4 linked regions of the Homo sapiens genome follow. The protein of the gene in region 2 interacts with the protein of the main gene of each other region in a biochemical or structural test. Each region holds a gene or a part of one and is shown on either strand. Other genes may lie near its edges. The genes, in order: MAP3K7, PPP6C, ZNRF2 and TIPRL.

What was found.
Region 1: of the proteins of PPP6C (region 2) and MAP3K7, one has a biochemical effect on the other in vitro, tested with the Homo sapiens proteins (one study listed by IntAct).
Region 3: of the proteins of PPP6C (region 2) and ZNRF2, one has a biochemical effect on the other in vitro, tested with the Homo sapiens proteins (one study listed by BioGRID).
Region 4: the proteins of PPP6C (region 2) and TIPRL form a complex in vitro, tested with the Homo sapiens proteins (one study listed by BioGRID).

What each region holds. Positions count from the first base shown.
Region 1 is NC_000006.12:90,514,046-90,521,073, forward strand, and holds part of MAP3K7 (mitogen-activated protein kinase kinase kinase 7), read right to left. Parts: intron 5,275-7,028; coding exon 5,213-5,274; intron 4,518-5,212; coding exon 4,402-4,517; intron 2,637-4,401; coding exon 2,456-2,636; 3' UTR 1-2,455. UniProt on the Homo sapiens protein: Serine/threonine kinase which acts as an essential component of the MAP kinase signal transduction pathway. Plays an important role in the cascades of cellular responses evoked by changes in the environment.
Region 2 is NC_000009.12:125,151,794-125,158,821, reverse strand, and holds part of PPP6C (serine/threonine-protein phosphatase 6 catalytic subunit), read left to right. Parts: intron 1-439; coding exon 440-581; intron 582-4,836; coding exon 4,837-4,916; intron 4,917-5,079; coding exon 5,080-5,289; intron 5,290-7,028.
Region 3 is NC_000007.14:30,322,586-30,329,613, reverse strand, and holds part of ZNRF2 (E3 ubiquitin-protein ligase ZNRF2), read right to left. Parts: intron 5,973-7,028; coding exon 5,877-5,972; intron 1-5,876. UniProt on the Homo sapiens protein: E3 ubiquitin-protein ligase that plays a role in the establishment and maintenance of neuronal transmission and plasticity. Ubiquitinates the Na(+)/K(+) ATPase alpha-1 subunit/ATP1A1 and thereby influences its endocytosis and/or degradation.
Region 4 is NC_000001.11:168,174,722-168,181,987, reverse strand, and holds the start of TIPRL (TIP41-like protein), read right to left. Parts: upstream 3,027-7,266; 5' UTR 2,911-3,026; coding exon 2,807-2,910; intron 1-2,806. UniProt on the Homo sapiens protein: May be a allosteric regulator of serine/threonine-protein phosphatase 2A (PP2A). Isoform 1 inhibits catalytic activity of the PP2A(D) core complex in vitro. The PP2A(C):TIPRL complex does not show phosphatase activity.

The sequences.
Region 1 (7,028 bases), on a different chromosome or scaffold from region 2:
GGAGTCAAGAGTAAAATGTAATTAATGTAATTAGGGCTTACTCAGTGATTGTTTTTGAATTTCTTAGACTGGGGCATTCCAGCCACTTGCTTGGCTGTTTGCAATTTTCACCCAAAAAACGGTCAAAATAAATTGTAAAACCAGAACGAATAAGTTTGGCTCCTTGTTAACATTTTTATTTGCAGGATGGATGAGGAAACTGATGAAACTGGCTGTGGATTTTAATTATCCCTGGTATCTTTTTCTCCCATCTCCAAGGATCATCAGGACTTAAAAGCATGAAATTGACAACACAACTACTTAAAAACAGAGTAAGGCTGAACTGTACTCAATGTCCAGGGCAACTACAGTACTGAAAATCTCAAGGAACTTACTGTAAACAAACAAGCAACTGTTCAACAGCCTCTTGCATTTGGTACCATGACTAAAATCTACTATTTTCTTCCATTTACCTATCTGGATATTTTTATGAAATGACTACATGTAAAAACCATAATAAAATTTCCCTTAAATGTGTTATAATACAGCAAAACACATCAATGACTATAAATAAAATCTGAAATCTCGAATGCTAAATCCTAATGGAAACATCAAGCCTTAGCATTCACGCTTGGATATCTCGTGCTGAGATAAAAGGCCTCTTTAAAGTGACTAGGTCCCTTTCAGTGGAGTGACAGATGTACATACAAGCAACAATGCTATGGAGGAGTCATGCTTTATCCTAGTCTACAGTTATTTTCTCTGCCAATTTTATTTTACTATTACTATGCTGAATCCAATATCTGTTTCAGCTAGGTAATCAAATTTGGGAACAATTAACACTCCTTTTATTTAAATTAAATGACAGAAGACATTTATTTCCAGGAAGCTTTCTAAAATAGCTTTTGAAGAAGCTAAAAATAACAGTTTAGTATTCACCTGTATTGCTTGTATACACAAGGAATTCATTACAAAACTCAGTGGTAGGAGGAAAAAATAATGGAAGAAAAAGTTACCTGCTTTAGCATTTTAAAGAATAGTTTTGATAACTTCTTAGATCTTGCTTATCTGAAATAGAGCAAAAACTACAATACAGTCATGATAGAATTCTAATAATCACAGCAATTAATGCTTTCATTTTGAACTTTTTCTTCATAAAACATTAATGCTATAAAAATCAGACTGATGACATCCTTATTTAAAAGACATCTTGTACTGGTATCAAAATGTGACTTATTTTAACACCAACTGAAAAAATATAGAGTTTGTATAGTCTATTATTTCAGTGTCATTTTATTATTAAAGTTATTCTGAAGGTTTTGGTAGCAAAATTACTGTTAACAATATAAATACTCTGTAAGTGTTGAAATTCTCTTGAAAGTGTTGAAAGGCGGCAGGCATTCTAGAACGGGATTGTAAGGAAAATCAAATATTCCAATATCCAGGATAATTAGGACACTTGTTGAATTTATATTTGCTTCTTTAACTTCCTTCTGATTTGCCTGGTTTATTTCTCATTTGGTATCATAAAAAGAAATCTAAGTCCAAGCTTTTTTTAGCTGGAGTAATTACTTCCATTTTCCATTATTTTTCTTCATTTTTTTTTTTTCAAATACATGAGAAAACAATCCAAGAATCACTGCAGGAAGAAATGATCATTTAAGCTCAATCATGTTCTTTTGCCTTTTAATTTCATTTAAGAGATTAATATTAGAGTCATAAAAGCTTTACAGTTTCAACACACATACACACAATCACAGAATTAAAAATCTTTACTCCTTAAAAAAAAATGAGTTCCATTTTGTTCAATGTATCACAATCAAATTTTAGTCTAACAAAATCCGGTAAAACTGCTTTCATTAAATAGAGCAGCTGCCACTTACCTTTACATATTTTACGGATGGAACTGAGTTCAGTACTGATCCAAGGATGCTGGCATCAAAGCCCTTACACGGAACTATCCCTAAAGGTTCCGTATTTCCGTAATATACCACCAATCACTCTAAATTTATAATACCCTGTCTTTAACTTGGTATATACCATCTTTTGGGAAAAAAATTATTAATATTTTGAGATGAGATACAAGAATAAAGTCATTCTTGAGGTTCCACCTCTAATATGAAAAAATGGACGCTGTTTGCACATAGCAGCTAGTTTGATACCTCCTGTTCTGTTAGGCTAGCCTTCACACAATGAGCATGCATATACAGCCACAGTTCACTGCATCTGTTTTGAAGTTGCAAAGTGCTGCTCATTCAAGTCACAGATGCTACCATGTTATGCAATGAAACAGTAAAATTGTATGTCCACCATGAGAAAAGGAAAATAAACAATGAAAAAAATGCAGCAAATATAGGCAGTTGGCATTCAGAACACGCCAAAAAGCTAACACTCATGAATCGTCATTATAAGGTTTTCCTTTCCTTAAAAAAAAAGTCTTTCTTTGCATATTTCAAAATGTAACGGTCCCAGAGAATCATGAAGTGCCTTGTCGTTTCTGCTGCTGACTTCTGATGACCTCTAGTTGTTTTTTGCATTGCTGGTAGTAAGTAGAAAGGCTTTTGTTTTCATCTAAAAGCTTTTTATGTTCCTGTACCAGGCGAGATGTATTTTGCTGGTCCTTTTCATCCTGGTCCAGTTCTGCAACTAGTTCTTGCCTACAAACAAATACCACATAATATTACACATGATGGAAAAATTCATACCTTAGTAGCTGATGATGGAAGCTCAATTAATGAGAATTTTTATTCTTGGTTTATCATTTTGCATCTTAGGTACACTAATCAAATATAATTATGGGCTGGGATGGAACTCTCATCTACTTCTAGTGTAATCATACAAATAACATAATCCTTTTATTAAGTAACTGTACTTGGATAATTAGCGAAGCAGATAAAATGGTAAAATAAAAGTTTCAGAAAATTTCATTTTCTATCCTCTTTTTGTGTAGGAAGGATGAAAAAAGGCTGGGAAGGGTTCTATGTGGCTATGGGAAAATATCATGAAGTTTTTATCCTTCACATTCTACTTTTATACTGATTCACATTCTGAAGTCACAATCCTACTTAACTATAGCAGAGAGTGGTAAGCTAATAGCAAATTTGCAATCTAATTAAAATAAATGCTATCCAATTTAAAGCTTTTTCCCATTTTAAAGCAGTGAGAAAAATGACAAAGTACCACTTCTTTTAAAACACTTACATTTGCAAGCACTTTCAGGAAAGACCCTCATTCTTTTATAGTCTGATAAACTTATTTAAGTCCCTCTTATTTGGGAACTATTAAGTATTCCCGAAAAAGATGCATCTTTAGGCATTTCCTAAAGTGAGGTTACTGGATATAAATGAATAATTAATAAAAAGTCCTCAAGCAAAATAACTAACTAATACTACTTCTGAAAGTATTTAAAATTGATTAAAACTGTCATAGTTTTCACAGCCAACACCCTAATCCACCATTTGTTTTTTCCAGCATAGAATACTTCTTTCAAATGATTAAAGTATGGCAAAAGTATAGGTTAAATAAGTGAAATAAGAAATCAAGCTTTTTCAACATAAAAGTGCCAGCAGTTTGATAATTACTTCTACGATTTCCAAACTGTAGTATTTAATTTCCTATTTAGGCTTACCTTTCAAATACCAGGTTGGTTCCATTTAAATCACTGTATCAATAAATTATGATAAAACAATTTTTTCTCTCTTTTTTTTGAAGTACATACAGAAAGCTTTTCGCAAATTCAGAAAAAAACAACTTTCATTTATTTAGATTAAAATTAATGAAGGGAATCCTATTATCATACATATATAAAGTTGCCAAAATTTTTTCCTTATCACTTCATTTTAGTTACCACCAACAATTCAGTTACCTAAGTATAAAATTTCATGGAGGTCATGCTTAAGAAAACTGAAGATACATACATATTTAAGAACTGTGAATGCAGTAGTAAGGAAATTAGGCTGTGTTTCTTTAAAAAGGGAGGAAGGCAGTTTCTATAACTCCTCAGAAAAACACTCAGTTATGAAATACAGTCTTTTAATAAGTAATCCAATTCTAAACATACACCTGGAAAAAATGTATCTACAAAAATGTTTCTAAGATAAGGCACAACTGAATGTTAATAAATCAAATTATTTTATCTATTTACAAGAAAACAATAAATCTTTATAATAATAAGTCTAAACAGCTCTGAGAACATAAAACAACAAGTATAAAGCACCAGTTTATTTTCCATAGCACTAATATGATAGTCAAAAGGATTGAGTTTTGCATAAAAAATTTTTAGTAAAAGGGTGCTTAAAGCTTAAACAAGTTGAAAGTATACTTAATGACTAATTCTAAAAACTACGTTTTCATTGCACCTTATCATATTTTAAACTCAAAATACTAATGTATTTTTATTTTTATTCATAAAAAATAACTTACTTTCTCTGTAATAACAATGCAATTTCTGTTTGAACTTTCATATATTCTTGTGCCATTTTACAATGCTGTTCAAACACTGCCATAGATTCTTTGGAGTTTGGGCACGGTGCTAGAGGCTGAAAATAATCAGGAATGTTAAAACATAATTAAATCAAATTTCAATATCTAGCTAAGATGAGAGTCAAGACAGAGACTGTGATATATTTTTATAGCACTAAAGCAATGATCTTTTAAAAATAAGTGTTAAACCATGCCCTAGAAAATCTCAGTGTCCTTTTGTCAGAATTAACTCAGCATTTAAATCTATTCTTGCTGTTTTAACAGTCTGTTACAGAGAATCATGATTGTTGGAGTTGTAGTCTCTGGTATGACATTTCAGGCTGCAAACAGGCTCAAACTAAATGATGTTTATAGCCCTCATACTCATGAGGGGGCACTGAAGTATATTATTTACATTTTCAGTCACTATGAACATGAGAATGTATCACAAATGTATTAAATAGAAATAAGCTTATGAGTTTTGTTTTAATGCACTAAAATTAAAGAGTGAAAATGTAATGCTTAGCAGTACTAAAGAAAGATACTGGAGGATTTTAAGATGACTGAAAAGATAAGAATATGATTCTGCCAATTTAAAGTTTGATTAACTTAACCAAAAGAATTATTTTGATTTGATTCTAAAAAGTTTAAGGAGGCCAACTAAAAGGATAAATTAAGGAGTGACTATACAATGACAGGTAGCAACACAATTGTCAACTTAAACTCTCTAAGAAGAAAAAAGTCAACTTTCAATAAGAAAGTACTCCTTTACCTGTAGTTGGTGATCCAGTGTAAGATAAGCCATTGGGATGGAGTTATCTGATCCATTGGTATCTGGAATTCAAGCATGTATTTTATTGATTTTCTGTCACAAATAATTATAAACGAACAGCAAGAAAGCATGAATGAAATGCTTTTTTTCCCTAAAGTAAATAATATGTAAATTAAAAGTTACAGCTATTGGTAATTGAAGAGTCTATTTCTGAATTCTAAAGGTTAAAAAAAGGATATTCAATTATCAGATATTAGAATGCAATTATATTCTCATACCTATAATTTAAGTTGGCTATAAACTGAATAGAACACAATATATTAGAGCTTCTAAGCTCTTAATTAAAAACAAAAACAGTGATGAGACCTTTATATTTTAAATTCAGTCTTAATTGACCCTATCTAATCAAACTCCCCATCTCTTTTCTTTATCATGCTAAGTTTATTTTATAGAAGGCTATATCAACTCCGCTAATATCAATGTTCCTTAACAGGGAAAGGGAGAAAGCAGAGACACATTCTCTTCCAGTGGATCATTTTCAATTTATATAGATTATAATGTGACCTCCACCACTCATCCTGCCCTTCCCAGTAAGAATCACTGCAGAAAACGAGATGTTGGTGATGAGAGTATATTACAAATACGAACAGTAAGGAACCAAAATGAGGTTGAAACCTGTGGCTCAATGTCATGCCGAAAACAGTTAAGTTGATTAATTCAAACAATCAGTCAATTTTATAAAATTATTTGAATAGAATGCTTTTGTTTATATTTCAAAAGAGGTAAAACTGCCATACAACTTGACTGAGATGCGTGGGACAGTCTCTTCTCAACATTTATGGTTATGTAGAACAGTTCCAGAAGTAAACAGAGTAACTCTGAAGCAATACAGACTTTTCTACTTCAGAAGTAGTTGCTTTCCCACTGTTAGTAGACAAAAAAAGAGCTAAATGAGTGAGCTCTTCAGCCTTTTTCTGACGAATAACTCCTTGAAGGAGTGGTGTGGATAAAGGCAAGTCAGGAAGACAGCAGACGCACTGTATGCAATCCAAAAAAACTCAAGAAGGGTTGCTGGCTCAGTAATCTTCTAATTTATTGTCAACTGATAATCCAGGTGTTTTTTTTTCTTTTTGCTTTTGTTTTTGTTTTTTTAAAGCCACTGAGAACGTGCTCTCAAGAAACTCCAAAAGCTAATTAGCGAAATCAGACCAAATGAGCCAGTGCATGTGAGGAACACCATGCAAATCCTGGCGTATATTAAGCACTCAATACATGACGGTAGTTATCATTATTATTCATACTAAATGGAGAATTAGAAAGAACAATTTAAAATAGTATAGTATGAATTCCATATTGAAAAAGTAATGTTTATTAAATATTGCAGGGCAATACAGAAAAACAGTAGAGACTTAAGGCACTTACCCTTACCCTTAAGGCTCATATACAGTACTAACATAAATGTGTGTTTTTCTGAAGTGGCTAAACAAGAAATATACTTAATTTGTTATTTCTCTGACCAACTCTTCTCCCACCCCAACAGTGGTTTCAAACTACGCTCCCACATAAACACTGCTTTCCACAAAACTAAAACTGATTAAAAATGACTGATTTCCTCCTGATTTACTAGAAAAATTTAAGTGTCTTGAAAAAGTTTCAATTTAAGATTTCCATTCCTATTATTCTTTCTTAAATCACTGATACATTATATATCTCATTATATCAGCACCCTGTATCTGATATGTATTTTAGAATTAAGCTTAATACATCAGTGTTGCGTGGTATTCTGGGAGCAGAAAAAAAGTCCAAGGATTGTGTT
Region 2 (7,028 bases):
GTGGTGGCGGCTTGTACCTGTAATCCCAGCTACTCAGGAGTCTGAGGCAAGAGAATCGCTTGAACCCGGGAGGCGGAGGTTGCAGTGAACCGAGATTGTGCCACTGCACTCCAGCCTGGGTGACAGAGTGATACTGTCTCAAAAAAAGAAAAAAAAGAAAAAAAAATGGTGGTTTTTTTTTTCAGGGAAAGTTTTTGAGAGAATGGCACAGCAGATTCTTGTAGATTTCCCTGGAATCAAAAATCTTGTTTGTATAAACATTTAATAGAAAAAATTTGTTTACGTGTATTTTATTTTTTTGTTAAAATCAAATTTCCAAATAATTCAGTATGTAACTCTTTATTGTAGTTATAAACTATATGTTTGTACAGTTTGATATAATTTGAAAAGAATATTGTGGCTATTGTATTGTTTGTAACTGTAAACTTTTACTTCACAGGGTGATTTTGTAGACAGAGGTTACTATAGTTTGGAGACCTTCACTTACCTTCTTGCATTAAAGGCTAAATGGCCTGATCGTATTACACTTTTGCGAGGAAATCATGAGAGTAGACAGATAACACAGGTCTATGGATTTTATGGTAAGAATTCCTATTTCTCTGATTCTGAATATTATTTTACTTTCCTCTTTGGAAAACAAAGCTACACAAGTCATACACATGCTTTATGTATATTATTTTCCCCACATCCTCACTCCTTCACTCCTCCCAAACAATTGAAAATCTTATGCTCGAGAGAAGACCACTGTTAACTTTTTGGTGTGCATCTTTCTAGATCTGTGCCTCAAAGTGTAGCTGGAATCACCTGGGTTCTCATTAAAAATGTAGATTGCCGGCCGGGTGGGGTGGCTCACACCTGTAATCTCAGCACTTTGGGAGGCTGAGGCAGGCGGATCACAAGATCAGGAGATCGAGACCATCCTGACCAATATGGTGAAACCCCTTCTCTTCTAAAAATACAAAAATGAGCTGAGCGTGGTGGTGTGTGCATGTAATCCCAGTTACTCGGGAGGCTGAGGCAGGAGAATTGCTTGAACCAAGGAGTCAGAGTTTGTGGTGAGCCGAGATCATGCCACAGCACTCCAGCCTGGCGACATAGGGAGACTCCGTCTCAAAAAAAAAAAAACCAAAAAAAAAAGGAGAATGCTGGGCCTCACCACAGATTTATTAATCAAAATATTTTGGAGTGGGAATCTAGAATCTGCTGAAGGTGAATGTTCTGCACAAATTTGAGAGTCCATTCTCATCCATTTTGTATGTGTGTGTGTGTGTTTATGTGTGTTTATATATGTACAAACACGTGCACACTAAAATGGGGACATACCTGATTTTTTCACTTTATTAATGTTATTTTCATGGCTGCTTCATATACCATATGGATGTAGCATAATTGATGTATCAGTTTTTCCTCTATCGTTGGACTTTAGAGTTGTTTTTAAGCTGCTGTTATACATCCTTTTACATATATCTCTGTATGCTCACTCCAGAGAATGCTAGGACCTCAGGGATCAGAAGCAGAACTTAGTCATAAACAGCAAAATAGGCCAGGCGCAGTGGCTCACCCCTGTAATCCCAGCACTTTGGGAGGCCGAGGCGGGCGGATCACCTGAGGTCAGGAGTTCGAGACCAGCCTGGCCAACTAAACCCTGTCTCTACTAAAAATACAAAAATTAGCCGGGCACTGGTAGGGGGAGGGGGGAGGGATAGCGTTAGGAGACATACCTAATGTAAATGACGAGTTAATGGGTGCAGCACACCAACATGACACATGTATACATATGTAAAAGACCGACACGTTGTGCACATGTACCCTAGAACTTAAAGTTTAATAATAAAAAAAATTTAGCCGGGCATGGTGGTGGGGGCCTGTAATCCCAGCTACTCAGGAGACTGAGGCAGGGAGAATTGATTGAACCCAGGAGGTGGAGGTTGCAGTGAGCCAAGATCGCTCCATTCCACTCCAGCCTGGGCAACTGAGCCAGACTCTGTCTCAAGAAAGGAAAAAAAGCAAACTAGCTAATTCTTTAAAACTTTTATTTGGTTGAAAGAGAGAGAGAGAGAGAGAGAGAGAGAGAGAGCGAGCTTATTAGGAAGCCCCTTCAGGGAAATAGAACTGTCAAGATTATGAATTTGGATTTTCCTTGAGCACAATTAAGACAGATATTGAGAGATTTGGAAACATTAATTGCAGAACCCTTTAGATTTAAATTTTATATTTTGAATTATCTTCTTTCATTATAAAGATAGGCTGGGCCAGGTGTGGTGGCTCATGCCTGTAATCCCAGTACTTTGGGAGGCTGAGGCAGGCAGATCACAAGGTCAGGAGATCGAGACCATCTTGGCCAACATGGTGAAACCCCGTCTCTACTTAAAATACAAAAATTAGCTGGGCATGGTGGCACTTGCCTGTAGTCCCAGCTATTCGGGAGGCTGAGGCAGGAGAATCCCTTGAACCCGGGAGGTGGAGGTTGCAGTGAGCCGAGATTGCACCATTGCACTCCAGCCTGGATGACAGTGAGGCTGTCTCAAAACGAAACAAAGCAAAGATAATCTGAACTCTCTTACTCTTCAGTTTGTCTGCCATTATCAATTAGAGAAATTTTGAGAATTTATTGTTTTTATATAATTTTTTTAATACGTGTAAAGTTAGGTAATATTTATCTCCTTTCTACAGGTGACTTTTTATTTTCATTCACAAAATAAACACCAATTGAAATACAACTTTTGGATTCTTTTGCAAAATAATCAATATTTTGGATAACATACTATGATATTAGCTCAGTGAAAACAGTACTAAAACTAATGTTATAAAAACACACACACCTACTATATATATGTAACTAATGCTACATGTATAATATATAAAATACATATTGTTATATATGGCTAATATATGACTTTTTTTTTTTTTTTTTTTTGAGACGGAGTCTCGCTCTGTCACCCAGGCTGGAGTGCAGTGGTGCGATCTTCGCTCACTGCAAGCTCTGCCTACTGGGTTCACGCCATTCTCCTGCCTCCGCCTCCCAAGTAGCTGGGACTACAGGCGCCCGCCACCATGCCCGGCTAATTTTTTTGTATTTTTTAGTAGAGACAGGGTTTCACCGTGTTAGCCAGGATGGTCTCAATCTCCTGACCTTGTGATCCGCCCGCCTCGGCCTCCCAAAGTGCTGGGATTACAGGCATGAGGCACTGCGTCCAGCCATATGACATATGTTTTGAATAAGATAATTTTAGTTATTATAGGACTTATATTGATTTTCAAGGAATAAAATATCCCTATATGACTTTACACTGGGACTTCAGTTCACACTGATAAACACATACTGGGCAGTTACTATTGAGCCAAGTTCAAGATCCCTGCCTGCAACCTGAGCTCATTGTTAGGGCTCTCTTATGGCAAGTTTACATAACAATCTTGCTTCACGTAGATATATAATTGAGAAAATCTTGGGGATTGGTCATAACCTGCAGACTTCTTTCCTATATCATTTTCAGCTTCACTTAAGGCAATAGTGATATGTCAGGTTTTTTTTTTTCTAAAATTATGGAAGAAGCCAAAGTACAGAGCTTCCATGGTGTTAACAAAAGAAGTGTGTACCCTATTAACTATGTAGACAGTCAGGGTACAGTGGCTCACATCTGTATTCTCAGCACTGTGGGAGGCTGAGGTAGGAGGATTGCTTGAGCTCAGGAGTTCAAGACCAGCCTGGACAACATAGGGAGATCCCCATCTCTACCAGAAATAAAATTAGCCAGGTGTGGTGGCACTTGCCTGTAGTTCCAGCTGTTCAGAAGGCTGAGGTGGTGGGATCGCTTGAACCCAAGTGGTTGAGGTTGCAGTGAGCTGTGATCGCGCCACTGCTGATTGTGCCACTGTATTCCAACTTGGGCAATAGAGTGAGACCTTGTCTCAAAAACAAAAAACTACGTAGGCAGCAGAAAGAGTGTTCAACTGAGAATTTGTAAGAACCTGATTGGCAATCTGTCCTCAGTTTTGATCCACTGAAGCTCAAGTGTTTAGTCGCACGATTTGCAGAAAATCTCAGAAGAGACAACTTAGCCCTGAGAAGAGTTAGGAATTGCTCATGCTCCTATAACTAAGGATCCTCTAATTTGTTTGATCTGTTTATCCTGCTAGAATTGTCTCCTTAAATAAATTTATCTGCTTACCAGAATTGCCTAATATTAACATAACTGTTAAAACATTTGCTTCAGGTTGTGTGAAATTAGTATTTAACTCTTCTAATGATAGCATTTTGGCTAATAATTTCAGCTGCTTCTTAGGTCCATTCCAGGAATGAAGAGCAGTACTACATCCTTAGGAAATACAGTCATGTGCCACATAATGACATTTCAGTCGATGATGGACTGTATATATGACAGTGGTCCCATAGATAAAACGGAGCTGAAAAATTCCTATTGCACAAATACTTACCATTGTGTTACTATTTCCTTATGATATTTAGTACAGTTACATGCTGCACAAATTTATAGCCTATGAGCAATAGGCTATATCATATTGCCTAGGTGTGTAGTAGGCTAGACCATCTAGGTTTATGTAAGGACATCCGATGATGTTCACACAACGATGAAATCACCTAACAATGCATTTTTTAGAATGTATCCCCATGGTTAAGGGACATACAACTGTATGTAGTTAGTCACTAGCGTTCTTTTGGCTCTATGTGGAGGTCCTAGCAGGACTAAATATGTGTCATATCTTGCTATCCTAGTTTAAGCTGAATTTCTGTTGTACTGAAGGCTGCTCTAGTATTGGATATATTGTTTATTTTTATTAGCAGATTCATTAATTAAAACCCTTCTGTTTCTTTCACAGATGAGTGCCAAACCAAATATGGAAATGCTAATGCCTGGAGATACTGTACCAAAGTTTTTGACATGCTCACAGTAGCAGCTGTAAGTTTCTATTTTTAAAGTCTCATGTACGTTCCTGCCAATAACACATTGCATATTTTTATCTAGTTGTCATCTCAATTATATTGATATCTTTAGTATTCACTGATGAGTTTAGATATGCCTGAGGTTATATGTTCAACTCTTTGTTATCCTTTTTTGCTAGTTAATAGATGAGCAGATTTTGTGTGTCCATGGTGGTTTATCTCCTGATATCAAAACACTGGATCAAATTCGAACCATCGAACGGAATCAGGAAATTCCTCATAAAGGAGCATTTTGTGATCTGGTTTGGTCAGATCCTGAAGATGTGGATACCTGGGCTATCAGTCCCCGAGGAGCAGGTTGGCTTTTTGGAGCAAAGGTCACAAATGAGGTAAAGCCAACATTTTTGGAAATGTAATTTGTGGATTGCTAATGGGCTGCATAGAGAACTATGGTGGCCCTAGATAACAAACTTGTAGTCTAGCTTACTCAAAATATGGTGGCTGTGGATATTAAATTTCTAGTTTAGTTATTAACGTATGTCTTTCTTTAATGGTTAAATAAGATGACACAGTGAAAGCACCTACTCCAGCATCCATTTGGTAATAATGTATAAAGTAAATGTTCTTTCCTTTTTTTTTTGTTTTTGAGATGGAGTCTTGCTCTGTCGCCTAGGCTGGAGTGCAGTGGCGTGATCTTGGCTCACTGCAACAACCTCTGCCTCCCAGGTTCAAGCCATTCTCCTGCCTCAGCCTCCTGAGTAGCTGGGACCACAGGTGTGCGCCACCATGCCTGGCTAATTTTTGTATTCTTAGTAGAGATGGGATTTCACCGTGTTGGCTAGGCTGGTCTTGAACTCCTGACCTCAGGTGATCCACCCGCCTCAGCCTCCCAAAGTGCTGGGATTATAGGTGTGAGCCACCGCACCCGGCCAGCCCCTTTCCTTTCAAGTACTGTAGTTAAGTAACAAAATGGCAAGACCAAGATAGGCAATACTTTTTTTTTTTTTTCTCAAAGACCTCAAATCACACAGATACAGACACTTTATTAGTTTCCTCTACAAGAGACAATAACATGAATCTTTTTTTTTTTGAGACAAGAGTTTCGCTCATGTTGCCCAGGCTGGAGTACAATGGTGCAATCTCGGCTCACTGCAACCTCTGCCTCCTGGATTCAAGCGATTCTCCTGTCTCAGCCTCCCGAGTAGCTGGGATTACAGGTGTACACCACCACGCCTGGCTAATTTTGTATTTTTAGTAGAGACGGGGTTTCACCATGTTGGTGAGGCTGGTCTTGAACTCCTGACCTCAGGTCATCTGCCCACCTTGGTCTCCCAAGGTGCTGGGATTACAGGCGTGAGCCACCGCGCCCAGCCTACGTCAAATCTTTTTTTTCTTTTTAACAGAAATCTCTGTTCATTTGAAAAGCCAAATAGATCCAAAGAAAGAAGATGAAAATTAAATACTTAAATTAATCAAAAGGCACTATGATACCACCTAAAACCTACTGCCACAGTGGTAGTAGGCTAAGGAAGATCAAGCTACAGCAAATCATGTAATGTGAATGTTAGCGATTACATAGCAGGAAGCACATTTGCTTTCCAGAAGACTACGGTACAGTGTTCATTTGGGCCCAAGAGGATCTTTGGCCAGGAAAGGATCAAGATGGATGAAGGTAAAGCCAAATCAAAGGAGTAGGTACAAAAGAGAATCCAAGCTACATAGTCAAGCAGATGATGATGGATCAGGCTTCTTCCTCCCAAGAAACATTTGCTGCGCTGTGCTGCCTCCCCCCTCAACCACCCCCCACCCCCTACCCCATGGCTGCTCAAGCCCAACTGCCTACTCCTGCCTTACAGGGTGCTCAGCCACCGGGACTAGGTTTGGGGTTGCCCAGGGCTCTTGCCATAATTTAGCATAGACCTTGGGGAGAACTGCTCACACATGGGTTGGCTTTGCTGCTGGTTGTTCTCAACAAAGAAAACCCTGAAGCATTCACATGCAGAGTAGTCTGAGCTTCTCCAGTCACAGTCAAACACCCCCACACAACATCCTCAAAAGTCTGAAATCTTGTAACAGCTGAGCTATAGTTAAAGCTGCAAGGCTCACAGAATCATCAAGGAAGCCAGAA
Region 3 (7,028 bases), on a different chromosome or scaffold from region 2:
GGATGGAACTGGAGGACATTATGTTAAGTGAAATAAGCCAGGCACAGAAAGACAACTATAGCATATTTTCACTCATTATGTGGGAGCTTAAAAAACAAAACAAAACAAAACTGATCTCATGGAGACAGAGAGAAGAATGATGGTTACCAGAGGCTGGGAAGGGTACTGGGGAAGGGGGATATAAAGAGGGTTTGATTAATGGGTACAAAAATACCTTCAGATAAAAGGAATAAGACCTAGTGCTTGGAAGCACAACAGGACAACTATAGTTAACAATAATTTATTGTGTATTTCAAAATAACTAGAAAAGCAGAACTGGTATGTACCTAATACAAAGAAATTATAAATGCTTGAAGTGATGGATGTCCCAATTATCCTGATTTGATCATTACACATTGTACATTTGTATCTGAATATCACATGGACCCCTATAAATGTACTATTATGTACACATAATAAAATTTTTTAAAAAAACTAAGAATTTGCTAATAATATTTAATTTGTTGGCTTGTCTGAAATATCCTAGAAGGAGCAAGGAAATGAAGAGAGCCTCTATACTCATAAAATTTGTATTAGATTCATAGACTATACAAGGAATTATTAGGTCCATAAACTCAACAATGAAGCACATGAAAGAGGGAAAAGTATATGAAACAGGCAGTCCTTCACATGAAGGTAATCTATGTTGTTGAATACTCACTGTGGCATTCTTAATTTTTTCAAGCTGCCAAAATACCATCTGCAATAGATAATACCACCCACATCATTCAAAATCCTTCCCTGCCCTGACAGCCTTGGGCGTCCCATTGGGATCTCTGCCGAGCCAGCTGCCCAATCCCTGAGAGTTTCTACCTAGTCAGCCAATTTCTTCTTCAGGTACCAGGATGTGGGTGTTCAGATATATTGTGCATTTAAAAAAATAAGAAGGTTTTGGTGAGCTAGTCTGAAAAACCAATATTTCAAATATCATCTCTGTGACAAAGAGTCTGAAACTCTAAATCATCAACTTATATTTGAATTTCTGGAACTCATCCAATTCAGGAGCTTATCTATATAAATATATCCAGTCTGAAGAAAACAAGCCCCACTATTCTTGTGTTATAACTATGAATGTTTATAGACAGTTAACATTCACTTAACAAATAAATTTCAAAATTTCAGATCTAGCTACTTTGGAAAAGGCTGCAAAAGTGTAAGTTAAATGAACAGTATGCTGAAAAAAATGTTCTTGTTTGAGCACTAACACAATTCAGAGGCCCAATGTATCTGATGTATCTCTCTATGGAATCAACATGTAGGAATTCAAATATAAAATTGTGAGGAATCCAGTTGACTAAAAAGATTCAGTTTTAGAGATTCTCTGGCTTTACCTTGTTCTACTTTATAATAATCCTAGATGGTTTGCTTATGAGGTATTAAAGGAGCCAATTTCCATTTGGACTCATCACCTGTGACAGACATTTTGGGGGGGGTCTGACTTTAAAACCAGGTGGCATTAGAATTCCCCTTGCCTATGATAGGAAAGTACATTATTAACCTGCCACCTCTCTGTAACCCTCCAAATCAGTCCAGGCAAAGCTCCTTTCTCCTTCACTTACTCATAACTGGCCACTGTCCAAGAGCTAGTTTTAAAACCTCAAAAACTATACACGGTTTTTATTAAGAAGCTGTATTTGCTTCTTGCTGTGAATGTTTATACAATTAATACATACTTTGAATTTTTTATCTCTACAAAATAAAAAATAAAAGCCAGGCATGGTGGCATGCACCTGTAGTCCTAGCTACTTAGGAGGCTGAGGTAGGAGGATCACTTGTGCCCAGGAGTTTGAGGCTGTCGTGTGCCATGACTGTGCCTATAGATAGCCACTGAGCTCCAGCCCGGGCAACACAGCAAGATCCTGACTCTAAAAACAAAAATATATATATTTTTATTTTTTAAAGCTTTCAGTCAGCAACTTTAAGAATGCCTACAAGTTTATTTACTTATTGCATGAAATTTATTAATTTCTAGATTGAAATACTGTTAAATATTTAAAATTCGAAATATTTGGTTGTTATAGTATCCCCAAGCAGAAGGTTATATATTAGTTCTTAAGACACCAAACAAGTGATCTAGCAGAACAGTTTAATGACTTAGGCATAGTTAAATCAGGAAATTAAGAACTGTCAAATATCCAAACCTGACCAAAAACAAGCAATGGGGAAAGGATTCCCTATTCAATAAATGGTGCTGGGATAACTAGCTAGCCATATGCAGAAGATTGAAACTGGACCCCTACCCCACGCCAACCTCCTTAAACCACATACAAAAATTAAGTCCAGATGAATTAAAGACTTAAATGTAAAATCCAAAACTATAAAAACCCTGGAAGACAACTTATGCAATACCATTATAGACATAAGAACAGGCAAAGATTTCATGACAAAGGCACCAAAAGCAATTGCAACAAAACCAAAAATTGACAAATGGGATCTAATTAAACTAAAGAGCTTCTGCACAGCAAAGGAAACTATCAACAAAGTGAACAGACAACCTACAGAATGGGAGAAAATTTTTGCAAACGAAGCATCTGACAAAGGTTTAATATCCAGCATATATAAGGAACTTAAACAAATTTACAAGAAAAAAGCAAACAACCCCATGAAAAAATGTGCAAAGGAGATGAACACTTTTCAAAAGAAGACATAAATGTGGCCAAGAATCATATGAAAAAAAGCTCAACATCACTGATCATTAGAGAAATGCAAATCAAAACCACAAGGAGATACCATTTCAAGCGTCAGAATGCGTATTATTAAAAAGTCAAAAAAAAATACATGTTGGAGAGGCTGCAGAGAAAAAGGAACACTTAACACACTGTTGGTGGGAGTGTAAATTAGTTCAACCATTGTGGAAGACAGTATGGCAATTCCTCAAAGACCTAAAAACAGAAATACCATTTGACCCATCAATCCCACTACTGGGTATACACCTAAAGGAATATAAATCCTTGTGTTATAAGACACATGCATGCATATGTTCACTGCAGCACTGTTCACAAGAGCAAAGACATGGAATCAACCTAAATGCCCATCAAATGATAGACTGGATAAAGAAAATGTGGGTCCATATATACCGTGTGAATACTACACAGCCATAAAAAAGAAGATCATGTCCTCTGTGGAAACATGGATGGAGCTGGAGGCCATTATCCTCAGCAAACTCACACAGGAACAGAAAAGCAAATTCCGCACGTTCTCACTTGTAAGTGGGAGCTAAATGATGAGAGCACATGGACACAAAGAGGGGAACAATACACATTGGAGCCTACCAGAGGGTGGAGAGTAGGAGGAAGGAGAGGATCAGAAAAAATAACTAATGAGTACTAGGCTTAATACCTGAGTAACAAAATATCTGTAGAACAAACCCCCATGACACAAGTTTACCTATATAACAAACCTGCACATGTACCCCTCAACTTAAAAGTTAAAAAAATTGTTAAATATCACAATACACAAGAAGACTGTATTCTAGATATATTACACAAAAAGTAAACATACAGAATACTAAGACTGTGTGTAAATATATTATTATATGGTCAAATATATTTGTGATTTTCAAATTGAAAGCCAGAAGCTTTAAGATTTATGGATATTTAAAGGCACTCATATTAAACATAAACAATTATAGAATATAAGATAGTGGAGCAGGTATGAAAAACAAACCCATATACTTTTAGTCACAAATTTTGAATGAGAACACTTTCTATTTCTTAAATAACTAAACTTGAAGTAGATAATGCAAAGTAGCCAATTCAATTTCATAATGCAAAAAGGTTAGGATATAATCAACAAATACATTTATTATGCCAAGTAACTGCTTAAAACCACTTTCACATTTCATCAGCAAATGAATGGCAAAAAGTGCTCTATTGTCAACCCTGTAATAGGGTGGCTGAAGCACCACCATACTAGAAAAAGTGAAGGAAAGGGAAGAATTGAGAGACTGATTCTTAGATCAACTTGCAAAACACTACCAAAAGTAATATGCTCATTTCAATGTTAAATTCTACCCCTCCCAACATTTTTGTTACCTGAGGAGAAAGCTCAGATAAGTGCTGCTATATCTACTAAGTTTTTCATAGAACCTTTTTATTTAACCAATAATTCTTAGCTCAAAGAAATCAGTGACTATTACTATTAGTAGGCTGTAAGCTCCATTTCTGTTCATTCACTGCTATATCTCTAATTCCTAACACAGTACCTCGCACATAATTGATGCTCAAAATATATGTTGAATTTAGCCAATCTTTCAATTGGCTATAGTGTTTACTGGTACCCTTTCTACACATTTTATTTCAGGCCAAAATTTATATTTAAAAAAAATGAAATTTCTCTTAAGCTTTTGAAGTCTGTTTCTTTATAAAATTTTGAAAACAACTTTCATTTTTCCTTCATTTTATTCTATTCATTGGTTAGGACAGAACTACTTGATTTTTCCCCCCCAAGTCTATTCCAAAGTATGCCAAGGCTACATTTAAAATCTTTCCTAGGTTTTGGAATATCTAGAGATTTTGGTCAGGAAAGAATGGTACAGTCTAAAACACCAGACCTAAAAAAATACCAGTTCGCTCCAGAGCTCACAGACTAAATTTGTATATGGGAGGAAAGACAGAGACACATATGCACTGCATAGGTAGAGTTTTGGGTTTCTCTTAATGACTTTTTTCTCCCATTAGGCATCTATTTACTATTGAATAAACTTTTATTCTCCCTACTCCTCATATATGTTCCCTTCATTTACTCTATACTCTTAAACAAAAAGAAAAAAGTTGCAATTTCAACCATGCTTACTTACTTTTGAAAATGGCCATTATGAACATTACATTTTACTTAGGCTTAACCCAAAAGATTTTATTTCAATGCAGCAGTTCTCAAACTGTGGTCCAAAGAATCTTGTACAGTAGGAGAAGTGGAAGAGCCTTTGAAATCCTTTTAGATTAACAAAGTAAAAACTATTTTCATGGTAACACTAAGTATCTGTTTTTTTGTTTGTTTGTTTTTGTTTTTTTTTCTTTTTTTTTTTGAGACAGAGTCTCACTCTGTCTCCAAGGCTGGAGTGCAGTGGCACAATCTCGGCTCACTACAACTTTCGCCTCCTGGGTTCAAGCGATTCTCCTGCCTCAGCCTCCCGAGTAGCTAGGATTTCAGGTGTGCACCACCACACCCAGCTAATTTTTTTTTTTCTTTTTTTTTTTCTTTTAGTAGAGATGGGGTTTCACCATGTTGGCCAGGCTGGTCTCAAACTTGGGATCTCAGGTGATCTGCCTACCTCGGCCTCCCAAAGTGCTGGGATTACAGGTGTGAGCCACTGTGCCTGGCCATATCTGCCTTTTTCATTCCCATTCTCTCCAGTATAGCAGCAGAGTTTTCCAGAGGACACAAGACGTGCCATATCACAATAAACTGAATGAAGAAGCAGATGTGAGAATTCCTTGTCATGAAGCCTGATATTAAAGAGTTTGTAAAAATCCTGAAAATGCCACTCTTGTCACTAAATATTTTGTCTTAGAAAATTTACTTTTCATTTAAAAGTTGTCAACATAATTATATTTATGTTTAACAAAATAAATTAAAAATTATAAATTCTGTTTTAATTTATGACAAATATGGATAGATATAACCCAAGTAAAGAAAAACTCTTTGAAGTCCTCAGTAATTTTTTGAAGTGTAAAGAAGTCTTGAGATCACAGAATTTGAGAACCACTGCATTAATGCACTAGTAAAAATAGAGAAAACAATGTCCTTCCCTCCTTTTAAATTATACTTGAAACATGAAATTCATAAAATGTAAGTTAATTCTAACTTAAAATATTATTTTAAACCATTGGACTTACCATTATAGGTTATTCGTGGCTTTGTTAAACACATTACAAGATGCAAATCCATTTCATCTGAGGATACAAATTTTGAGCATACAGGGCACTTAAATCCTAAAAAACAAAAGAAACTCAAGTTACTTAACTATTCTGAATATCCAGCTATGGCTTTTAAAAAGCATGGAAAATCAAAAAGCGTTTGAAACTTCAATATTACACTTACTGCATTACACTGTTTATGTGCAACTCAAGTCAGGAAAATTTTGTGATTATAATATCTGACTTTTGTATCAGTTTATGAAGATGATCTCCTCATCAAACAAAACAAGTTAAAATGAGAGGGATGCAGTCCACTACAAACTCCTGTATCTCTCTCTGATGTACTGGTCCAGGTATTCTCGTTTTTAATTTTTTACATTAACCTGTACTCATGATTTCATGTTATTACAAGCTTTGTAATCTGACTACTCTTGTGGAAATTACCTTTACCAACTTGGTATAGTACACTGTGAGTCACAAGTTTTATAGCTAAACAGCACCTTAGACACTATTCTACCTCAATAACCTTAAAATTTTATCTGATGCAGAACGTGAAGCCTTTCAGAACAGCAAAAACAGGTCTAGAATCTAAGACTCCTGACTTCTACTTTAATGGTCTTTCTGCCACACCATGGCACTGAAGTCATAATGAAAACAGAAACTAGCATCAGATCGGGGTACAGGTTTTTGCAGTCAATTTTTGACACTTAAAAATTAGCTAGTTTCCTACATTATTCAATCTGCACTACTAAGTATTTGCCTGAAGTACTCCATTAAAAATAAACTAGCATAATAAAATAGGGACTATTTGATGTATTCAGCTCTGTTCTGCCCCCTCACTTACCAAGGTGAAGTGTCCCATCCCTGCCTTCTTGCTGCTAAGACAGTCCTCAGATATACCATGTTCCCCTGCTGTCCTACTGCTCCCTCCCCTGACACCACTAAGCTGTTTGGAAACCTGAACCCAGATAGCCAACTTATAGTTTGGCTAGGCACAAATCAGAAGTGGAACAAAAAGATGGCATAGGCCAATCAATTTTTTTTTTTTTTGGAAATATGATTAAGAAACAGTGAGAGACTATATTGGCCAGCAGTAAAGAGCTTAAGCAGAAAGGTCAAAAGTAAGTAAAA
Region 4 (7,266 bases), on a different chromosome or scaffold from region 2:
AGTTCAAGTGATTCTCGTGCCTCAGCCTTCAGAGTAGCTGGGATTACAGGCCTGCACCACCACCCCCAGATAATTTTTTTTGTATTTCTAGTAGAGGCGGGGTTACACCATGTTGTCCAGGCAGGTCTTGAACTCCTGACCTCAGGTGATCCGCCTGCCTCAGCCTCCCAAAGTGCTGGGATTACAGGAGTGAGTCACCGCACCCGGCCTCAGGCAAATTTGTTTTTAAAATAATACATAAGGAGATCGTAGATATGGAATTTTATTCCCTTAAAACTCTCCATGTATACAGCCATCGCTTAGAGAATCTGTAAGTAAATTACATGGGGGCCCCAGTTTGAAGCTGACTGCTTTATATATAATATAATTATATATTGTATTATGTTGGTGCAAAAGTAATTGCGGTTTTGCAATTAAAAACCGCAATTACTTTTGCACCAATCGGCAATTTGTCACAGAAAGTTATATGGAGAGGAGGCCGGGTGCGGTGGCTTATGCCTGTAATCCCAGCACTTTGGGAGGCCGAGGGCAGGTGGATCATCTGAGGTCAGGAGCTCAAGACCAGCCTGACCAACATGGTGAAACCCCATCTCTACTAAAAATACAAAATTAGCTGGGCGTGGTGATGCATGCCTGTAATCCCAGCTACTTGGGAGGCTGGGCAGGAGAATCGCTTGAACCCAGGAGGTGGAGGTTACAGTGAGCCGAGATGGCGCCATTGCACTCCAGCCTGGGCAACAAGTGAAACTCCATCTCAAAATAAAAATAGAAAGAAAGAATAAGAAAAAAAGAAAAGAAAAGAAAATTAAAAATAAATAAATAAATAAAAATACAAAAATTAGCCAGGCGTGGTGGCACGCGCCTGTAGTCTCAGCTACCAGGGAGTCTAAGGCAGGAGAATCACTTGAACCTGGAAGGCGGAGGCTGCAGTGAGCTGAGACTGTGCCACTGCACTCCAGCCTGGGCGACAGAGTGAGTCTCTGTCTCAAAAAAACAAAATAAAAAATAAATAAAAGTTATACAAGGCTGGGCGCAGTGGCTCATGCCTGTAATCCCGGCACTTTGGGGGGCCAAGGCGGACAGATCACCTGAGGTCAGGAGTTCGAGACCAGCCTGAGCAAAATGCAGAAACTCCGTCTCTACTAAAAATACAAAAAAAAAAAAAAAGTTATAAAAAAAAAAGAAAAGAAAGATATAGAGAGGAAAAACTCAAAAAAGTAATTCAATTTCTGGTGGGATGAAGGGAAATTTTTTTCCTTTCTTTTCTGTATTTTCCTAATTTTTTTCAGTGAGTCTACTAGAATATTACCACTTATTTTCTTGAATTAGGAAGCAAACATCGTTTCATTACTTTCCTCTCTTCCCTGGTCACTCCCTCTGCTCAAATCTTAAAATGCAAGTACTCACTTAGGGTTCTATTTTATGACCTTTTCCTCTGGATGACTTCTAGATACCTTAATTCATTCCCAAAGCTCCAGGTACCAAATATAAGCAGATAATTCCCAAACTTAAACCCACAGACGTTATCTTTTTTGAGCTCCAAGATAAATATATCTAAATGCCTACTACACATCTTCACTTTATGACCTATACCCACCTCACATTTCAATAAACTAAACTCATCCTCTAACCAACACCCTGCCCCCATCTGCTTCTCCTCCTCCTGTGCTTCTCATCTTGTTCAAAGGCATACGATACATGCAAAAATCCAAGCCAGAGATCTTGTCATCAGCATAGACTCTTCCTTTTTTATTTCTCCTCCCATCAGCTGGCCATCCCAGGGACTTAATCTTCTAAAACCTATCTTTTCTCTTACTAACTGGTCTCCTTCCCATCCCTGCGGACCTGCAATCCAGCCTCAACATGGCCTCCAGAGAAATCTTTCAGAGCGTACATCTGATAATGCAGCTCCTTTGGATAAAATTACACCCAGTGGTTGTCAGATAAAATTGAAAACTCCTTAGCCAGGCATAAAAATTCCCTCAGTATCTTGATTCCCCTGGGGCCTACCTCTCATCTCTCACAACACCCCCTATGGTACCTCACGCTCCAATCACACGGACACAGCTCTTTAAACACATCACAGCTTTCACTCTCCCTGAGCCCCCAGCTTTACATGCGTCCCCTGATTCCCCTAAATTTTGTCAAGATTCAGCCCAGGCATCAAAAACGCATCACAACTCACTCTGCCTGACCTGATGGCATGTACCTATCCACCGCCCCCCGCAACGGTTTTATAAAGATTCAGTTCAGGCATCCCAATTTCCCAGATGGTTCGAGCCCCTAAAAGACCTCACATCACTCCGTGTATACATCTTCATTACATTTATTCACGCTGTAATATAATTGTCTGTCTCTCTCACGAGACTGTGAATTGAGGCGCACGTTGTCTTTTACATTTCCTATCTCAAGCGCCGGGCACAGCACCTGACGTGACAGAAACCAAACTTATAAATCATCCCCGTCATTAACCCCTAAGAAAACAGGCAACAGCCACCCAGAAAGAAAGGTGGTGCAGGCTGAGGCAGGAGGAGACGTTTGGTGAGGGGAAAGTCCACCAGAACAGTCACACTCTACTCAAACCCAGGCGGATTGACAGTTGACGAAAGCAGCGCCTGGCGATCCCCAACCAAAGGGCCCGGAAGTGTGACTGGATTATTTATCGAAGTTGTCAATCAAAGGTCCGGTCCGGAGGGACCGAACCTCCGCCTCAGGGAAAAGGGGAGGGGCTGCACAGAGTTCGCCCTGCCTCCCGCCCTGGGCCAGCAACCGGCCAGCGCCCAGACCCCGTGCCCCGAAGCCTCACTTCTCCACATCCGCCGACTTCATGATGTGGGTCTTGGACGCCGTCAGCTTCCAGGGCCCGAAGCAGAAATCCCGGTGGCTGCTCTGGAAGCCGTGGATCATCATGGCTGAGGCAGGACCCGCAGAGGCCACAAGGAATAAGCTGAAGCAGCGGCGGCGGCGAACACCGGTTCCTCCGCCTCCCTCCGGCCCAGCCTCCTAGGCTTCCGAGCCGTTACCATGCCCGGCCCCGCCCCCTGCCGGCCGACCCGGACGCGGGCTCTGCTTCCCGTCTTCTTCTCCGCCTCTTTGCTTTTTGCTTCCGGGACTAGTTGCTCTTGTTGCGTGACCCACGTCTTACGTTCCGGCGTTCCGGAAAAAAGGAAAAAGGAGAAAGTCAGAGGGGCGGCACTTGGGTTGCAGAAGGTGTGGTTAGGAACGCACCGCCCTCTTGAACTCGTTGGGTGACGTCATCTCGAAGGATTTTAGGGACTGCCAGGGAAGGGGATGACGGTTCCAACTTGATCCTTACAGACCTCAAAGCAGTGTGATTACCTCATGTGTTAGTGAATCGTGTTACAGAGGAAATTTTTCTGTTTTGAGGTCAAAAAAAGAAGTAATCCCACAGAGTTTAGGAAATCCAGCACCAACAAGATTTAGAAGTGGCCATCTAGCCACTCTTGACTATGACCAACTCCTATCAAAAATTGCATCCTCGTAGATATGCGAAGACTTTCCATGGTCTAGTTGCTATGTAGGCACCCAGTATAGTGAAAACAACACAGCTGACTTAGTGCTAAATCTCCATTTGCAACACTATTGTGTGAATCCTTGGGCAAAGCGCTTCTCTAACGATTTTAGGCTTCAGTTGCCTCAAAATGAGATGATTTTGTTAATGGAAAAAAAACAAATTCTGTAAAAGGTTTTAAAGAGATTTATTCTGAACCAATATGAGTGACCATGGCCCAGGGAATAGTCCCAAGAGGTCCTAACAAAGAGCATCTGAAGCGGTGGCATTACTCTTTGTTTTATACATTTTAGGGAGTTGGGAATTGCAGGTAAAATAAGTCAATATATGGAAGATATACATTGGTTCAGGCTAAGGAAGTGGGATGTCTTGAAGGAGAGGCTTACAGATCATAGGTGGATTCAAAGATTTTCTGATCGGCAATCTGTTGAAAGATTTAAGCTTTAGTCAGGCGAGGTGGCTCCTGCCTATAATCCCAGCATCTTGGGAGGCCTAGGTGAGAGGATTGCTTGAGTCCAGGAATTTGAGACCAGCGTGGGCACCAGAGTAAGCCCTCATCTCTACAAACCGTGTTAATTAGCTGTGTATGATGGTATCTGCCTGTAGTCCCAGGCCACTTGAGAGGCTGTGGTGGGAGGATCTCTTGAGCCTCAGAGGCTGCATTGAGCCATGATCATGCCACAGCACTCATGCCTGGGTGAGCGAGACCCTGTCTCAAAAACAAATAAAAACACAGGCCAGGTGCAGTGGCTCAAGACTGTAATCCCAGCACTTTGGGAGGCCAAGGTGGGTGGACCACCTGAGGTCGGGAGTTCAAGACCAGCCTGGCCAATATTGTGAAAACCTGTGTCTACTAAAAATACAAAACTTAGCCAAGCACGGTGGTGGATGCCTGTAACCCCAGCTACTAGGGAGGCTGAGGTGGGAGAATCACTTGAACCTGAGAGGCAGAGGTTGCAGTGAGCCGAGATCGTGCCACTGCACTCCAGCCTGGGTGACAGAGTAAGACCTTGTCTCAAAAACAAACAAACAAACAAACAAAAAACAGTGTTAAGCTTTGTCTAAAGACTTGAAGTCAGTAGAAAGGAATGCTTAAGAAAAGGGAGTCTGCTATCTGTCATGTGATTCTACACCAGTCAGGTTGGAAAGTAAGGCACATTATACCATTGCACATAAAAAACCATTTAACGACATTTTATGGTTTGTAGGGCATGACTTAATCCTTGCCTTGCATGGCCATAGTTTTTTTGTTTTGTTTTGTTTTGTTTTGTTTTGAGACAGAGTCTTGCTCTGTCGCCCAGGCTGGAGTGCAGAGGCCCCATCTCGGTTCACTGCAACTTCCACCTCCTAGGTTCAAGCGATTCTCCTGCCTCAGCCTCCCAAGTAGCTGGGATTTCAGGCATGCAACACCATGCCCGGCTAATGTTTGTATTTTTAGTAGAGACGGGGTTTCATCATGTTGGTCAGGCTGGTCTTGAACTCCTGACCTCATGATCCACCTGCCTCGGCCTCCCAAAGTGCTGGGATTACAGGCGTGAGCCACCGCGCCTGGCTCGCAGGTCTTGTTTATTTGTATTTATTTTTTTTTTTGAGACGGAGTCTCGCTCTGTCACCCAGGCTGGAGTGTAGTGACGTGATCTCAGCTCACTGCAACCTCCACCTCCCCAGTTCAAGCGATTCTTCTGCCTCAGCCTCCCAAGTAGCTGGGACTACAGGCACGCGCCATCTCGGCCAGCTAATTTTTGTATTTTTAGTAGAGATGGGGTTTCACCATATTGGCCAAGCTGGTCTCGAGCTCCTGACCTCGTGATCCGCCTGCCTCAGCCTCCCAAAGTGCTGGGATTACAGGCGTGAGCCACTGCGCCCAGCCTAGGTCTTGTTTATAATATGGTATCTTATTGCCACAGAGTGTTTTGTCAGTCTTATGATCTCTAGTTTAACCTTAATGTTGGTCAGTTGTGCCTAAACTTTAAAAGGGAGAAGGTATAGAGGTGTGTCTAACCTCTCTTCCCATCTTGGCCTGGAATTCAGTTTTTAAGGTTTTTCTGAGGTTCCTTTGGCCAAGATTAGGTTTTGTTTTCTATCTAAAATTTCTTTTTATTTAAAAATTTTTTTATTTTTAATTTTTATGGTACATAATAGACATATTTATGGGGTATATGAGATATTTTGATAGAGGCATGCAATGTGTAACAATCACATCAGGGCAAATGGGATATCCATCACCTTAGACATTTATTATATTTTTGTGTTGCAAACATTCCAGTTATAATCTTTTAGTAATTTTTTTTTTTTGAGATGGAGTCTCGCTCTGTTACCCAGGCTGGAGTGCAATGGTGCGATCTCAGCTCACTGCAACCTCTGCCTCCTGGGTTCAAGCGATTCTCCTGCCTCAGCCTCCTGAGTAGCTGGGATTACAGGCACGCACCACCATGGCCGGCTAACTTTTGTATTTTTAGTAGAGACAGGGTTTCACCATGTTGGTCAGGCTGGTATCGAACTCCTGACCTTGTGATCCACCCGCCTCGGCCTCCCAGAGTGCTGGGATTACATGTGTACAATAAGTTATTGTTGCCTGTAGTCACCCTATTGTGCTATCAAATACTAGATTTTATTCATTCTGTCTAACTATATTTTTGTACCCATTAACCATTTCTGCCCCTCTCCACTACCCTTCCTAGCCTCTGGTAACCATCATTTTACTCTCTATCTCCATGAGTTCAATTGTTTTAATTTTTAGCTCCCATAAATGAGAGAGAACATGAAAAGTTTGTTTTTCTGTGCCTGGCTTATTTCACTTAACATAGTGTCCTCCAGTTCCATCCATGTTGTTGCAAATGACAGGATCTCATTCTTTTTTGTGGCCAAATAGTCCTTCATTGCATGTATGTACCACATTTTCTTTCTTTTTTTTTTTTTTTTTTGAGACAGAGTCTAGCTCTGTCGCCCAGGCTGGAGTGGTGCAGTGGCGCAATCTCAGCTCACTGCAACCTCCGCCTCCTGGGTTCAAGCGATTCTCCTGCCTCAGCCTCCCGAGTAGCTGGGATTACAGGTTCATGCCACCATGCCCAGCTAATTTTTGTATTTTTAGTAGAGACGGGGTTTCACCATCTTGGCCAGGCTGGTCTCAAGCTCCTGACCTCGTGATCCACCTGCCTCGGCCTCCCAAAGTACTGGGATTACAGGCGTGAGCCACCACGCCCAGCCTGCACTACATTTTCTTTATCCATTCGTCTGTTAGTGTACACTCCAGTTGCTTCCAAATCTTGGCTATTGTGAATAGTGCTGCAGCAAACACGGGAGTGCAGGTATCTCTTCAATATACTGATTTCCTTTCTTTTGAGTATATTCCTAGCAGTAGGACTGCTGGATCATAGGGTACTTCTATTTTTAGGTTTTTTGGGTTTTGTTTTGTTTTTTTTTTAACAGACAGGGTCTAGCTCTATTGCCCAGGCTGAAGTGCAGAGGCATGGTCATAGCTCTCTGCAGCCTTGACTCCCTTGGCTCCCGCAATCCTCCCACTTCAGCTTCCCTAGTAGCTGGGACTACAGGCACCACTGTACCCAGCTAATTTTATTATTATTATTATTTGTTGTAGAGATGAGATCTCGCTATGTTGCCCAGGCTGGTCTCGAACTCCTGGGCTCCAGTGATCCTCCTGCCTCAGCCTCCCAAAGTGATGGGGTTACAGACATGATTTACCACACCCAGCCCATTTTTAGTTTTTTAAGGAA